Linked DNA regions of Homo sapiens: region 2 is linked to region 1. The links come from fine-mapping of genetic effects on gene expression. Tissue or cell type: whole blood. Region 1 holds a variant in brackets; the other region holds the start of a gene. All regions are shown on one strand. Distances are between the middles of the regions.

Region 1 (8,000 bases):
GGGCAACAGAGCGAGACTCCGTCTCAAAAAAATAAATACAGGCCGGGCGCAGTGGCTCACGCCTGTAATCCCAGCACTTTGGGAGACCGAGGTGGGCGGATCATGAGGTCAGGAGACCAAGACCATCCTGGCTAACATGGTAAAACCCCGTCTCTACTAAAAATACAAAAATTAGCCAGCGTGGCGGCGGGCGCCTGTAGTCCCAGCTACTCGGGAGGCTGAGGCAAGAGAATGGCATGAACCCGGAGGGTGGAGATTGCAGTGAGCCGAGATCGTGCCACTATAGCCCGGGCAACAGAGCGAGACTGTCTAAAAAAAAGAAAAAAAGAAAAAAAAGATGCCTAAAGTTGGAGAATTAATGTAATTTTTTAAATGATGTTTCAGCTTTGTTCCTGTCTGAATCATGCATTTTTCTGGGTTGAAGAAACCTTATAATAGCCTGATGCTTCTTTGCACTTTCTCAAGCATGATGCAGTGCTGTTGTGTTTTATTTCAGAGGAGAAGAAGATGATTCTTTGGCCATCAAACCACCCCAGCAAATGTCTCGGAAAGAAAAAGCTCATCACAGAAAAGATGAAAAGAGAAAAGAGAAACGTAGGCATCGTAGCCATTCAGCAGAAGGGGGTACAGAAGCATTTACTTTCTTTGACATCATGTTCAAGTGTGGTTTCTTTCCTGTTCCTACTCTTCTGCCTTCCCCAGAGCACCACTGAAAAACCAGAGAAAGCAAACTCTAGCTGAAAGCATACGTGTGTCACAGACCGTTCAGAATGGCTATAGAGAGAATACTCTAGCTAAAAGCATGCGTGCGTCACAGACCGAAAACCAGAGAGAGCAAACTCTAGCTGAAAGCATGCGTGTGTCACAGACCGAAAACCAGAAAGAGCAAACTCTAGCTGAAAGCGTGCGTGTGTCACAGACCATTCAGAATGGCTATAGAGAGAATAGCTGAAAGCATGCATGTGTCACAGACCGTTCAGAAGGGCTATGAGAGCAAACTAACTAAAAGCATGCGTGTGTCACAGACCAAAAACCAGAGAGAGCAAACTCTAGCTGAAAGCACGCGTGTGTCACAGACCATTCAGAAGGGCTATACAGAGCAAACTCTAGCTAAAAGCATGTGTGTGTCACAGACTAAAAACCAGAGAGAGCAAACTCTAGCTGAAAGCATGCATGTGTCACAGACCATTCAGAAGGGCTATACAGAGCAAACTCTAGCTAAAAGCATGCGTGTGTCACAGACCAAAAACCAGAGAGAGCAAACTCTAGCTGAAAGCGTGCGTGTGTTACAGACCATTCAGAAGGGCTATAGAGAGAATACTCTATCTGAAAGCATGCGTGTGTCACAGACCATTCAGAGGGGCTATAGAGAGCAAACTCCAGCTGAAAGCATGCGTGTGTCACAGACCGTTCAGAAGGGCTATACAGAGCAAACTCTAGCTAAAAGCATGCATGTGTCCCAGACCGAAAACCAGAGAGAGCAAACTCCAGCTGAAAGCATGCGTGTGTCACAGACCATTCAGAAGGGCTATAGAGAGAGTACTCTAGCTGAAAGCGTGCATGTGTCACAGACCATTCAGAGGGGCTATAGAGTACTCTAGCTGAAAGCATGCGTGTGTCACAGACCGTTCAGAGGGGCTACAGAGAGCAAACTCCAGCTGAAAGCATGCGTGTATCACAGACCGAAAACCAGAGAGAGCAAACTCTAGCTGAAAGCGTGCGTGTGTCACAGACCATTCAGAATGGCTAGTCCATTTTTCCTCTGGGGTTTTCTCTCCCCCATTATATTGTTTGGAAGCAGTTTGTTTACATTTAAAATGACCTGAATTCAACAAGTATAGGAGAAAAACACACCCCAAAATGGGTATTTGCTCAAGTCCAAAGAATGGGTTTGGCTTGAGCAGTTTGATCTCGTACCAACATCAGGAGGTTCTTACGGGTGTTAGGAAAATTGGACCTGGAGCCCGATTGAAATGTCATGATTATAAATACACTTGATTAATTAATGTGGCTTCATTGCACAGTGGAGAAGCCCACTGATAGCAAAGCTTTGTTCTGTAGTCTTTGTGAAGAGTGATTTTTGTATTATAAAACTGATAATTATAGTTTATTCAGTATGGAAAAGTTTTAAAAGACGAATATTACAATTCTGCTCTTCTGTGATAGCAGAATTGTTTTTCTTTTTTCTTCTTTCTTCATAATTAGACGCTTACTGCAGATAGTTTTTTATTTTCAAAGTTTTTTATTTAACATAAAATCATGATTATTCGGCTGGGTGCAGTGGCCCAGGCCTGTAATCCCAGCACTTTGGAGGATCAATTGAGTCCGGGAGTTCAAGACCAGCCTGGCCAATATAGCGAGACCCTGTCTCTTTAAAAAAAAAAAAAAAAAAAAAAAAGGCCGGGCGCGGTGGCTCACAACTGTAATCCCCACACTTTGGGAGGCCGAGGCCGGCAGATCACGAGGTCAGAACATCAAGACCATCCTGGCTAACATGGTGGAACCCCGTCTCTACTAAAAAGACAAAAAATTAGCCGGGCGTGGTGGCAGGCGCCTGTAGTACCAGCTACTCGGGAGGCTGAGGCAGGAGAATGGTGTGAACACGGGAGGCGGAGCTTGCAGTGAGCCGAGATTGCGCCACTGCACTCCAGCCTGGGCGACAGAGCAAGACTCCATCTCCAAAAAAAAAAAAGAAAAAAAAGAAAAATTAGGATTACTTAACGTTAACATCATTATTTAAATATTTATTTAAATATTTACTGTTCTTGATTTAATTTCTTTTTTTTTTTTTTTTGGGACGGAGTCTTGCTTGTCACCCAGGCTGGAGTACAGTGGCGCAATCTCAGCTCACTGCAAATTCCATCTCCTGGGTTCACGCTATTCTCCCGCCTCAGCCTCCCGAGTAGCTGGGACTACAGGTGCCCGCCACCACACCCAGCTAATTTTTTGTATTTTTAGTAGAGATGGGGTTTCACCGTGTTAGCCAGGATGGTCCCGATCTGACCTTGTGATCCGCCCACCTCGGCCTCCCAGAGTGCTGGAATTACAGGCGTGAGCCACCGCGCCCGGTCTTAATTTCAGTTTCACGTGGGTTTTTTTTTTTTTTTTGCCCAGGCTGTAGTGCAGTGGCGTGATCTCGGCTCACTGCAACCTCCGCCTCCCGGGTTCAAGCAATTCTTCTGCCTCAGCCTCGCTTAGTAGCTGGGATTACAGGTGCCTGCCACCACGCCCAGCTAATTTTTGTATTTTTAGTAGAGACGGGGTTTCACCATGTTGGCCAGGATGGCCTTGAACTCCTGACCTCAGGTGATCCGCCCGCCTCAGCCTCCCAAAGTGCTAGGATTACAGGCATAAGCCTCCGTGCCCGGCTTCATGTGAAATTTTTGAAGTGAGGTTTCTTTGCATGACACTTTATTTCTCATTAGGGAAGCATGCTAGAGTGAAAGAAAAAGAAAGAGAGCACGAACGTCGGAAACGGCATCGAGAAGAACAGGATAAAGCTCGCCGGGAATGGGAAAGACAGAAGAGAAGGGAGATGGCAAGGGAGCATTCCAGGAGAGAAAGGTGAGTCGGCTGGGTCAGTTGAGGACTTTATAAAAGGGCTGTGGTAGTGTGTCCCATCCTAGAAATGAAGAAGAATTTGGCAATAGAAGTCACATCTGAGCCAGGTGTGGTGGCTCACGCCTGTAATCCCAGCACTTTGGGAGGCCGAGGTGGGCGGATCATGAGGTGAGGAGATGGAGACCATCCTGGCTGACATGGTGAAACCCCGTCTCTACTAAAAAAATACAAAAAATTAGCTGGGCATGGTGGCGGGCACCTGTAGTCCCAGCTACTTGGGAGGCTGAGGCAGGAGAATGGCGTGAACCCGGAAGGTGGAGCTTGCATTGAGCTGAGATCCCGCCACTGCACTCCAGCCTGGGCGACAGAGCGAGACTCCGTCTCAAAAAAAAAAGAAGAAGTCACATTTGGTGCAGAAGTGGTAGACATGGAAACAGCACAGTGAACGCTGGACGAGGCTGACCAAGAGAACTGTCCTGAGGGAGTGAGTTTTCACTGCATCTGGAAGTAAGAACGGGTGTGATTTGATTGAGGGAAGACAATGAAGGGATCAGAAATCTGCATGTCCGGCCGGGCGCGGTGGCTCATGCCTGTAATCCTAGCACTTTAGGAGGCTGAGGTGGTTGGATCCCTTGAGCCTGGAGGTCAAGGCTGCAGTAAGCTATGACCATGCTATTGCACTCCAGCCTGGTTGACAGAGTGAGACTGTCTCAAAAAAAGGAGAAGGGAGATCCTAAAAACCTTGAAACAGTCTGGAATTCGGGA[C/T]CCTGGACTCCCAGGACTCCTGGCCATTAGTTTATATATTCGTTCCCCTTTATGAGCCAGATTCCCAAGAAAGAACATCGGTGTAGCCCCAGATCTGTTCCGTGAACCAGGAAAAAGGCTGTAGGCCAGGTGGGAGCAGGCCCATCTCCGCCTTCAGAGTGAGTCCACAGAAAGCTTGCAAGCTGCTCCAGGAAGAGAGGAGTCTGAAGCGGAAGGGCAGCGATGTTTGCCAGCAGCCAGGGCTGGGTACACAGCATGTAAAGATGATGAGAGGGCGCTGGTTCTTGTTGATGCCGAAGGGTGTGGGAGACACTGAGGCCCAGGGGTCAAGGTCCGAGACCGCTGCGGGGTGAGCAAGGTTTCAGTTGGCCTAGTTCCTGTTAGTGTGTGAAACATTCATGTATGCCACACCCTGTGCCAGACATTGAGTGTGTCTTGTCCCACGAGAGTACAGCTTGGGATAGAAGTGGAGGTTGGTAGATGAAATTTGGGCTGTCATATTGATTTCCCAGAAGGTAAAGACAGGAGAGTGAATGAGCAAAAATTGTTGGGGGCAGACTTCTGGGTAGGGCCGATTCAGATCAGCCAATCCAGAACTGGGTATGGTAGCATATGCTACGTGGGAGGCTAAGGCCAGAGGACCGCATGACGCCAGCCTGGGCAACGTAGGGAGACCTTGTCTCTGACAAAAAGGAAACTGATAAGGATAATCTGAGAAGCACTGATGCTTGGAAAACTGCTGAGCTGTGGGTGAAAGCAGTAAGAATCTGACCTTCTGGCCTGAGAGCTGCTCCCTTTACTGCTTCCACTCTGCACTTGGGAAGCACGGAGGTTCCACTGGGACAGGGCAGCTGCAGGACCTGCAGTTTCCTTGCTGCCTTGGAAGGGGTTACTCCGTTTAGAGCAGTGGGCAGTGGCCTTGCCCACCAGCATCCTCAGTGGAGGGAGGAAGAAAAGGCCAAGAGGTCTGCTAGAATGAAGTACAGTGTGGTTGGGAGCAGCTGTGATCTCGCCAAAGACGTGCAGCAGAGACTGGAGAGAGCTCGAGCCGCCACCCACTTGTGACCAGCCCTGAGGATGCAGCTGCGTGAAAGGACCTGGCAGAAAATAGAAGCCGCCACAGATGCGAATGACGCGTGAACGTTCAGTGTGCTCCCTGTCCACACACAGCCGTGGGCCAAGGAAGCCTTACTGTGCTCGAGGTATTTGAGCCCAGCCTTTTTCCAGTGCTGGCTAATTGCTAAGCTGTGCAGCCATGGTGGTGACCCCTAGGAAGCCAAGGTTGAAAATTAAAATAGGCATGTGGGAAGGAACGGGGTGGCCACGAGCTGTGAGGGAGATGGATTTCACGGACAACCAGACAGGCCTCGGTGGTAACAACGAAAGGGAAAACTTAGAATCCAGAATTGCTACAAATGTATTATCTAAAATACAAAGAAGTATGACAGTGTGACCCATACTGAGGAAGAACATCATCAGTAAAAACTGTCTGAGTGTCCAGATGTTGAATTTAGTAAAGGCTTGGAAACAACTTGTGGATGGAGCAGTAGAAATTATCCATTCTGAAGAACAGAGAGAAAAAAACAAGAAAAATGCACAGAGCCTCAGAAACCCGTGGTACAACATCTGCTGTACCAAAGCACGTCGAATGGGGGTTCCAGGAGAGAGGAAAGATATTTGTTACAATAATGGTTAAAAACTTTCCAAATTTTAATTAAAAAATATGCACATTCAAGAGCACAGGAAGTTTGAACTAGAATAAATGCAAAGTCACATCATAGTCAAACTGGCAAAGGCCAAAGAGAAAATGTTGAAAGGCCTCAGAGAAGAATGACCCATCCCATGAAAGGGGAGCTTCAATACCGCCAGCCACTGACTTCTTAGAAACAATGGAGGCCAGAAGGCAGTGGAGTGGCATACTCAAGCTGCTCAGAGAGAAGAACCATCAGCCAGGAATCAAAACCGTTCTACACAAGTGAAAGGGAACGAACGACATTCCCTGAGAAGCAGAGACTGGTGGGATTCATTGTTGGCGAAACCTGCCTTAAAGGAAATACTAAAGGAAGACCTTCAAGTTGAATAGAAATGACACCAGACGGTAACTTGAATCCTCAGGAAGGAAGGACAGGCACTGCAGATAGCAAGTGTAGGTTGACGTCAATATCCTGTAACTATCTCTCCTCACATCTTAGGTTTTACTGGAACTACGATTGTATAAAATAATTACACTGTTGTCATGGTATGTGGCATAAATGGACTGCACAAAGAAGACAGGGAATAAAGCTGTGTTACAACAGTTTTATATTGTACTGGACTTGAGCTAGTATCATGAGGCATACGGTGATCCCTAGAGCAACCACTAAGAAAGTTGTTTTCTTAGTGTTTTAAAAAGTACAAATAAATTAAAATGGTATGCTAAACATATGTAATTTAAAATCAAAAAGGGAAGAATAAAAAAGACACAACAAAGCAAGGAAAGTAAATCCAACTGTACGTGTAATTATATGACATGTGAAAGGTCTCTGTGCCCCAAACAGACAGGGCAGATTATCAGATAGAAAAACAAGATCTAACTGTATGCTGTCTGCTAGAGAACAGGAAAAGACGCAGCGTACAAACATCAGCTGTCATAGGAGAGCTTGAATGGCTGTACTCATACCAGACAAAACAGATGTTAAGAAATATTAGAAACCAGCCTGGCCAACATGGTGAAACCCTGTCTCTACAAAAATCACCTGGGTGTGGTGGCGCACACCTGTAATCCCAGCTACTCGGGAGGCTCAGGTATGAGAATCACTTGAACTCGTGAGATGGAGGTTGCAGTGAGCCGAGATTGCGCCACTGCACTCCAGCCTGGGTGACAAACCAAGACCCTGTCTCAAAAAAAAGCTAGAAACAAGAAGGAGCAAGGACTTCACAGCCAGAAACAGGCCAATACAGCAGGAAGATACAGCAATGATACGTGTGAATGCATCTAACCACAGAGCCCAAAATCCATGAAGCAAACACCGATCGAATGGAAAGAAATGGATCATTTATTAATTAGAATTGGAAATGGCAGCTGGGCACGGTGGCTCGGGCCTGTAAACCCAGCACTTTGAAAAGCGGAGGCAGGCGGATCACGAGGTCAGGAGATTGAGACCATCCTGGCTAACATGGTGAAACCCTCGTCTCTACTAAAAATACAAAAATTAGCTGGGAGTACAGGGCGCACGCCTGTAATCCCAGCTACTCGGGAGGCTGAGGCAGGAGAATCGCTCGAACCCGGGAGGCGGAGGTTGCAGTGAGCCGAGATCGCGCCACCGCACTCCAGCCTGGGGGACAGATGAAGACTCCGTCTCAAAGAAAATAAAATAAAAAAATGAAAAAAAAACTTCACGGATTGAATTACGTAGAAAGCCAGTTTACAAATGTGGACAAAAACGCGATAAGCAAGCTTCTGTTTAGGGGGAATGATGGCGTGTGCCTCTTCAGGGACCGCTTGGAGCAGTTAGAAAGGAAGCGGGAGCGGGAGCGCAAGATGCGGGAGCAGCAGAAGGAGCAGCGGGAGCAGAAGGAGCGCGAGCGGCGGGCAGAGGAGCGGCGCAAGGAGCGGGAGGCCCGCAGGGAAGGTAGGCGGCGCGGTGGGCAGCTGTGCTCGGCGGGACGCGTGTCTGCTGCCCCCTGGTGCTGGG
Region 2 (8,000 bases), 33 kb after region 1:
GCCAAACACCTCCACTTAGCCAGAGCAGGGCTCATCACAGGCAGCCGCAGAACCGACTGGAGGTCTTTGCTAGTAGGGGACACGCATCTGCCGACCCCCGAGATGGGCCCGGCAATGGAGATGAAGGACTTGGGACCGCAAAAAAGCCAATGCCATGAGCCCACACTGTGATCCTTCTGCAGCAGGGGGCGCCTTCTGTCTCTGCGCCCAGACTCTCAGCCACAGCCAGCTTAGCCCAGGCCAGCGGCCACACCTGCCCGACCCGCTGGCCATATGCCATTGGACCTTTCCAAAAAGACAGGGGCAGGGTGCCCCATGTGTGAGCCAATGTGTCCTGTGCTTTGGCAAATCTTGCCCTTGGGGGGATGGGCAGAGGGCAGAGATGTCGGGGAGGTCACCAGCAGGGCCTCTGGGAATCAAGACCAAGCCTTGGCGGCCCCCGCGTCACAGGGGCAGTGGGGTGGAGTGCCAAGGCCATCAGCCTGAGACAGGGTAGCCTGTGCCCCAGACTGGCACCTGTCTGCAGCATGCCCGGTATTTTTAGCACAGCCAGGCAGCTCTCCAGCCCTGGCCCACAAACCCCCACCCTCCCAGAGGCTGTCCCTCATGGAAGCCCACCTGAGTTGGGGCACAACTGGGCTGAACACAGGCAGGGCTTCCTCCCTGGCCTCACTTCTTGTGCCTGGAACCAGCCCCCCACTTGCTGAGGGCTGCCCCAACAAGGGGGACGAGCCTGGACAGGGGAGCTGGGTGCGCCCACCCACTCCCACCTCTCCCCGGGGGCTGGGATGTGAGCACACAGGGGCCTGTAGACCCGGCGCCTCCTCAAGGCCTCCCCTGCAGGGCCCCCACCCCAAGGGTCTGGGGTCTGTCCCACTTCCAAGGCAGTCCCTTCTGTCCAGCATGGCACTGCCCTGGAGTGGCCGCCTCATCTGAGCGGGGTCTCCAGCCATGCCTGCCCGCCTGCCAACCCTTCTGCGGTGCCAGTGTGCAGACAGACCACATGCGCGTGGATCCCAGGCTCAGGAGCTCAGTATCCTGGACCCTCTGGAGGGGCCAGCAGTTTTGGTTTTTTTGAGACGTAATCTCGCTCTGTCGCCCAGGCTGGAGCGCAGTGGCGCAATCTCAGCTCACTGCAAGCTCCGCCTCCCAAGTTCACGCCATTCTCCTACCTCAGCCTCCCGAGTAGCTGGGACTACAGGCGTCTGCCACCACACCTGGCTCATTTTTTCTATTTTTTAGTAGAGACGGGGGTTTCACCGTGTTAGCCAGGATGGTCTCGATCTCCTGACCTCGTGATCCGCCCGCCTCGGCCTCCCAAAGTGCTGGGATTCCAGGTGTGAGCCACTGTGCCCGGCCGCCAGCAGCTTTTGAGGCTCTGCCGCCTTTCTCCTCAGCTCCTTCCTGCAGCTGCCTGCCTGGCTTTCTCACCATTGCCCCAGGGCCAGCAGTCACCCAAGACCTGCCACTGGGCTCCTGGCACCCTGGCCCCAGGGCTCAGTACCTGCCTCCGAAGGCCTCTCTAGGGGGTGTTTGTGGTGGGGGCAGGAGGCAGTAATGAGACCCCCACAGGCAGGGAGGAGGGGCACCCCGCCAGGACCCAGCACTTGTATCCCTTGGTCTCTTCTCAAAGGGGACAGAGTGCACCTGCTTAGGGGCGGGAGGATCCAGCCCAGCATCGAGGGGCCTGCCCCATTCCCATTGTTCATGAGAGGTGGGGGCTGTGGGGTCGCACAAGCAGCCTGCCCATGTCAGAGGGAAGCTTGTGGACAAAAGGGCTCATCCCTTGGGCTTCCCTGACCATCCTGTCCTCCTGGGGCCATGGGACAGGTTCTGGGCTGGGTCTGGGTCAAGCTGACCCCGAGGGTACTGGCCACAGGACCCATCCCCTGGGCAGGCCTGGGAGCAGGTGATGTGGGGCTGGCGCTTGGCACACCCGCTGCAGACCTCAGGTGAGGACTTCCTGGAGGCAGGTGAGGAACACCAGATTAGGGGTAGGAGTGGGGTGGGCAGCCTGGAAATCAAGCCCTCTAGGACAGATGTTCCCCCAAGGGCCCCTCACTCCCTCTGCCTCCACCCTGGACCTGTCCAGCATCCATTCCTTCCTGGAGAGCAGGAGGCCTCTGGGTTGCCCCCTCCTATTTTTCTGTTCTACACCCACAAGGCTCCAGGTGCAGAGGAGGGGACCCGTGGGACCTGATCACCCTGATCACCTGCCCACAGCGGGTGAGCTCTGGGCCAGAGGCTGCTATGGGAAGTGCAGATGTCCAAGGCTAGCCCTGCCCTCACACCAACCTGGCCAAGGTTTCCCAGAAAGACAAACCAGAGACAGCCACAGCCACAGCCCAGCACTGGTGGAGGGGCTCCAGGGAGCAGACCAGCAGACCAGAGCTGTGGCCACGCAGCCCCTGGTGTACATCGTGGCGTACATGGCTGTGGCCACTCCTGCTCCTCCTCTTGGAAACATACAGCCCAGGCTTCCGCTTCAGGATGCTGCCCCACAATGGGTATCTTCATCTCAGTCAGAAATTTACTCAGAGAGTTACCAAATGTTTTTTCCTTTGCCAGAAATGCTAGACTTTGCCATCTACCCACAGTTCACAGGCTGTGCCCCTGGCTGGCATCTGAACCCCGCTGCAGGCAACTGCTCCCGATGTTTAAAATGATGGAGGCAGTCAGGGTGTGAAGACTCGGGCGACAGATCGACAGATGTGCTTTGGCAAATCGGAACTTACCTCAGAGCACACACCAGCCTCGAGGCAGCGTCCCAGGCATTTAATTGCTACTTCCTGGGTCACAGATTCGCTCGGCTACCAGGCTTTCCTGTTGGAAGCTAAAGCCACTGGAGACACAACACAGCAAACCAGACGGGCAGCCAGCAAGCCAGGCTGGAGAAAATGGTTTCTAAAGGCAGTGTCACACATTTAGCATTTACCGTCTTAACCACGCAAGCAGACACCGGGTCTGTTCTATTGCTGCTTAGTTTCTCTTTTTCACAAGAAACTGCAAGCTCTCAGAGGGCAGGAGGACTTCCGAACCATCAGTCAGGAGAGTGTAGGAGGAGAGAGTTCCCTTATTGCAAGTATTTTATCGGAGAAGCTTTAAAAGCCATAGAAACCAAATCCTATTTAGCGAGAAAGTTAGCAAATTGCCTTTATTCAGAAGAAGCAAGTTACATGGAACTGGACATGAGGCTGCCCTCCTCCTTGCACCTCCAGCTGTGCCTAATGACACCGAAATGCCGCTGTGTGTGGCACGCCACAGGCCATGGAGTAGCTCCAGCTAACGCAGATGGACATCCCAGGTGCCCCAGGGAGATCAGGCCCACGGAGTGGGATGAAGCCCTGAGGCGGGGAGGCCAGCATGGAGACACCTGCTGAGGGAAAGCCCACGAGCGCTGCGGCCACCTCCAATCCTGCCCATCTGGGTGGAGACCTACAGGCACCCTGCAGGCTGGGGTGTCATCCCACTCACCGCCCAGGGCTGCCCTCGGCCAGGAGAGCGCCACATTCAGACACTTGTTGCATGTGAGGCAACAGGCCAGGGTGGAACCGGACAAAGGGGGCCTCCCGGGAAGGGCCAGGCTTGCCGGCGCTCCTGCGCTGCGGCCGCTCTGCCCCAATCCTGCAGGTGCCTATCAGAGGCCTGTCTGGCACCTCTGCTTTCTTCCTCCATGGGTTCCGAACTCAGAGAGGAGACGCGGGATTACTCACCACTCCCCTCCACTCGCATGCATGCTCAGACACAAACACAGCCTCTCTGACGTGGCTTCCACGGAGCCCCAAAGTGGGAGAGCCAAGTGCAAACTATCAGGCCGCGGACGATCAAGAGCTCACCTGTCCGGCCGTCCAGTCGCCCGCCGGGCCGCCTTGAGGCTCCTGGGCTGCAGCCCTGATGCCTGGAAACTTTGGGACTGGCCTCTAGCCTCGCTGGGCTTCCAACCCTGTGGCCGAGGGGAGATGCCAAGATGCACAGTTAGCACCTCGACCCGCGGCTCGGTCGCCTGTCTGCCCCCGGGGCTGCCCGCCGGCTCCAGGTCCACTCGGGCCCACGGCCGCGACACTCAGGGCCGCCGCCTGCCCGGATGGGCTCCCTGGGGTCTGAGCGCGCAGGAGCCGCCAGCGCCGGGCCCGTAATTGCGTGCGCCCGGGGTCTGGCGGCCGCGGCTCGCAGACGTCAGGAGGCTCCGGGACGCGCACGGGCGCCGGCGCAGGGGAACGGGCGGGCCAGGGGCGGGCACGGCGGGCACCCCCACCCGGAGCGCGCCCCGCCCCCTGTCATTCGTGCCCGTGGCTCGCGGAGGCCGCCCGGCCCTGTCCGCTGCCAGACCTTGCCAGGGCCGCGCAGTACCTGCCGACCCCAACTTGCCCGGACGTTTCCGTCCCGCCCGCTCCGCTCGGGGGCGCGGGACCGCCGGCCAGTCCGTCTGTCGGTCTGTCCCGGCGTTCGAGGCCACCCACCGGCCCCGACTGCTCAGCGGCGGCCAGGCCAGGCCAGAGCGCCTGCCGCGCGCCGCAGCCCACCCGGCCCGGACGACGACCCCAGCGCCGACCCCAGCGCCGCTGGCCCCGGGCCGCGCGAGGCCTGCCGGGAGCTGGAGTCCCGCGCGGGTGGCCGGACCACAACTCCCAGGAGGCCCCGCGGCGGCGCTGCGCGCGCAGCCCCAGCCCATCCCGTGCGGACCCTACGCCGAGTCCAGCCCGGGGCTGCTGGGCCAGCGGGAGCGGGAACCGGACGGCGCTCGCGTTCTGCCAGAGCGGAGAACGACTCGGGGACGGTGCGGAGGACCAGGGGAGGAGATCCGCGCCCGCACGCACCATCAGCCGAGAGGACGGCCCGCATCGCGCCAGTGACCTAGGAGCGACTCGGGGACGGCTTCGGGCTCCCAGGCCCTCCTGGGCCACCGGGCACTGAGGAGAGCGGCGGCTGGAAACTGTGGGACCCGAAGGGCGGGAGCCCAGGGCCCGCCCCCGCCGGAGCGCCCCCGCCATGGCCACGCCCCCGCCACGGGGATGGGCAGGGCAAGCACCGGAAGTGCGTCACGCGGGAGCGTCTGCGTCGCCTACCCTGCGTGGCGCAGCTAGGTTCCGAGCGGCTTAGCCTCCGGGCGCCTGCGCAGTGGCGGTCCTAGAGACGCACTCGGTTGCCATAGAGACGGGGGCTTGGGAGCGACGTCGCGCTCGCTGGCACTGGCGGCACTTGCCGCGCCGCAGCCACCTCTTTCCGACTCCACCAGTGCGGGCCCTATCCGGGGTTTTGAGTCACGCAGACCTGGACACAGCGAGAAACGGCAGTCCGGGCCCGTCCTCCCGCCCCGGGTTCTGCACCCCAGAGTTGGACGCTTGCTTCTCGCTTTCTCCTGAGAGAAGTCTCCGCGTTTCTGAACAATGCACTGCTAGTTTCTCATTTCTTTCTTTCTTTCTTTTTTTTTTTTTGGAGACGGAGCCTCGCCCTGTCGCCCAGGCTGGAGTGCAATGGCGCGATCTCGGCTCATTGCAACCTCCGCCTCCAGGGCTTAAACTATTCTCTTGCTTCAGCCTCCCGAGCAGCTGGGACTACAGGCATGCGCTACCACGCACAGCTAATTTTTGCATTTTTAGTCAAGACGGGGTTTCACCATTTTGGCCAGGCTGATTTCGAACTCCTGACCTCGTGATCTGCCCTCCTAGGGCTCCCAACGTGCTGGGATTATAGGCGTGAGCCACCGCGCCCGGCCTCTCATTTCTTAATTGTAGACATTGCGTACTTCCGGAGAAGGTCCCTGAGAACCTGGCTGATCTTCCCCGCTGCACCCCTCACGTGGTCCTGTTAGCTCCCAAACTGTCAACCTGAAAGGAAACCCAGAGGCAGGCTCTCCAGGACAAGTGAGTTAATCTGGGAATCGCAGGGGGTTGCAGCCTAGGCTGTTCGTGCCATGACAGATCATAGGCCTATCTGAGAGGGCCGGGCGAAGGGGAAAATACAGATGAGCTCACAAAAGTTGTTTTGTAACAAAAACCACTGGCTGTGGGCGCTTGCTGCAGGAGTGGGCGTTAGCTTGTTGTTGGAGAGAGCCTTACCAGGCCGACGTCCTTGTGCAAGCTGCTTATCTAGAATACTGCAGTCCTGAGGAATTTCCCTGCAGTAAGTCCGGTTACAGGCAAACGTGCAGGACGTGCAGGAGCGTCTTGTGAGGAGGCCTGCTGCAGGTATTCCTGCATGAGAGCTCCCCCTTCGTGGCCTCCCGACTCCATTTGTTTAGGGATTGGTGGAAGTAGTTCCATTTTGGTACCTGCAACTTTCACAGCTGTCGTGATGAAATCAGGCTTAGCTCTTCATGATTGAGTACCTGCTGTTCACTGCTACAGTATAAAACCATGCCACAATTCCTGTACAATCTTTTTTTTTCTTTTGAGTTAATAATTACCTAATATTTTCACATATCTAGCTTTTTACTAACCCATGGCCAGCCTTTTTTTCAAGTACCCCAACGTTTTCGCCACATGCCTAACGATACCGTTTTCCAAAGGCTCAAACACATCCGTTGTGTCTAACTGATTCTCCTGTTCCGACCTAGACCGATCACTTCCTGACCCGGCTGCACAGCTCTTATCTCGAGCTTTTCTCTGCTCTCATCCTTGAGACTCACTTTGTCTGTCTCCTTTCTTGGATTCCCTGTGTAAACGAAAAATAAAATCCTAAGCTCTCTACCAACTGTTTTTTGTTTTGTTTTGTATTTGAGACAGGGTCTTGCTCTGTTGCCCAGGCTGGAGTGCAGTGGCACTATCTTGGTTGACTGCAGCCTCTGCTTCCTGGATTCAAGTGATCCTCCCACCTCAGCCTCCTGAGTAGCTAGGACCACAGACATGCACCACCATGCCGGTTATTTTTAAATTTTTAGTAGAGACAGGGTGTCACCATGTTGCCCAGGCTGGTCTCAAACTCCTGGGCTATGCTGTTTGCTCACCTCTGCCTTCTGAAGTGCTGGGATTGGCTGGGTGCGATGGCTTCACGCCTGTAATCCCAGCAGTTTGGGAGGCTGAGGAGGGCAGATCACTTGAGGTCAGGAGTTCATGACCAACCTGACCAACATGGTGAAGCCCTGTCTCTACTAAAAATACAAAAATACAAAAAAAAAAAATATTAGCCAGGCATGGTGGTGCACGCCTGTAGTCCCAGCTACTTGGGAGGCTGAGGCAGGAGAATTGCTTGAGCCCAGGAGGTGGAGGTTGCAGTGAGCTGAGATCGTGACACTGCACTCCAGCCTGGGGAACAGAGCAAGAATCCGTCTCAAAAAAAAAAAAAAAAAAAGCCAGACGCGGTGGCTCATGCCTGCAATCCCAGCACTTTGGGAGGCCAAGGCAGGCAGATCATGAGGTCATAAGATCGAGACCAGCCTGGCCAACATGGTGAAACCCCGTCTCTACTAAAAATACAAAAATTAGCTGGGTGTGGTGGTGGGCACCTGTAATCCCAGCTACTTGGGAGGCTGAGCCAGGAGAATGGCTTGAACCCAGGAATCGGAGGTTACAGTGAGCCAAGATCATGCCACCGTACGCCAGCCTGGTGACAGAGGAAGACTCTGTCTCAAAAAAAAAAAAAAAGAAAAAAAACCAGCCAGGCACAGTGGCTCACGCCTGTAATCCCAACACTTTGTGAGGCCAAGGTGGGAGGATCACCTGTGGCCAGGAGTTGGAGACCAGCCTTGCCAACATGGCAAAACCCCATCTCTACTAAAAATACAAAAATTAGCCGGGCTTGGTGGTGCTCGCCTGTAGTCCCAGCTACTTGGGAGGCTGAGGTGGGAGAATTGCTTGAACCCAGGAGGCAGAGGTTGCAGTGAGCCAAGATCTGGCCACTGCACTCCAGCCTGGGTGACAGAGTGAGACTCCGTCTCAAAAACAAAAAAAACAAAAAAAAAAAAAGAAAAGAAAAAGAAAAAACAAAAGTGCTGGGATGTGAGCCACCACACCCAGCCAGCCCTCCACCAACTGAACAGATTCCCTTTTGACCAAGGGGAC

What was found. PIP is the estimated chance that this variant, and not a neighbour inherited with it, causes the effect.
Region 2: it holds the start of MIB2, and the variant in region 1 is fine-mapped to the expression of MIB2 in whole blood (INTERVAL, PIP above 0.99).

The regions. Positions count from the first base shown.
Region 1 is chr1:1,645,063-1,653,062 of GRCh38, reverse strand. It overlaps CDK11B (cyclin dependent kinase 11B), which reads left to right. Exons shown (of 20, transcript NM_033486.3): 4 at 497-624; 5 at 3,426-3,564; 6 at 7,801-7,937. Among named protein-coding and RNA genes, the nearest start is that of CDK11B, 9.9 kb to the left of the region's middle. The variant C/T (reference allele first, on the strand shown) is at 4,327.
Region 2 is chr1:1,612,451-1,620,450 of GRCh38, reverse strand. MIB2 (MIB E3 ubiquitin protein ligase 2) reads right to left here and starts at 4,951. Exons shown (of 20, transcript NM_001170687.4): 1 at 4,818-4,951; 2 at 3,837-3,943. RefSeq lists silencers at 4,017-4,106, 4,137-5,186 and an enhancer at 5,287-5,456.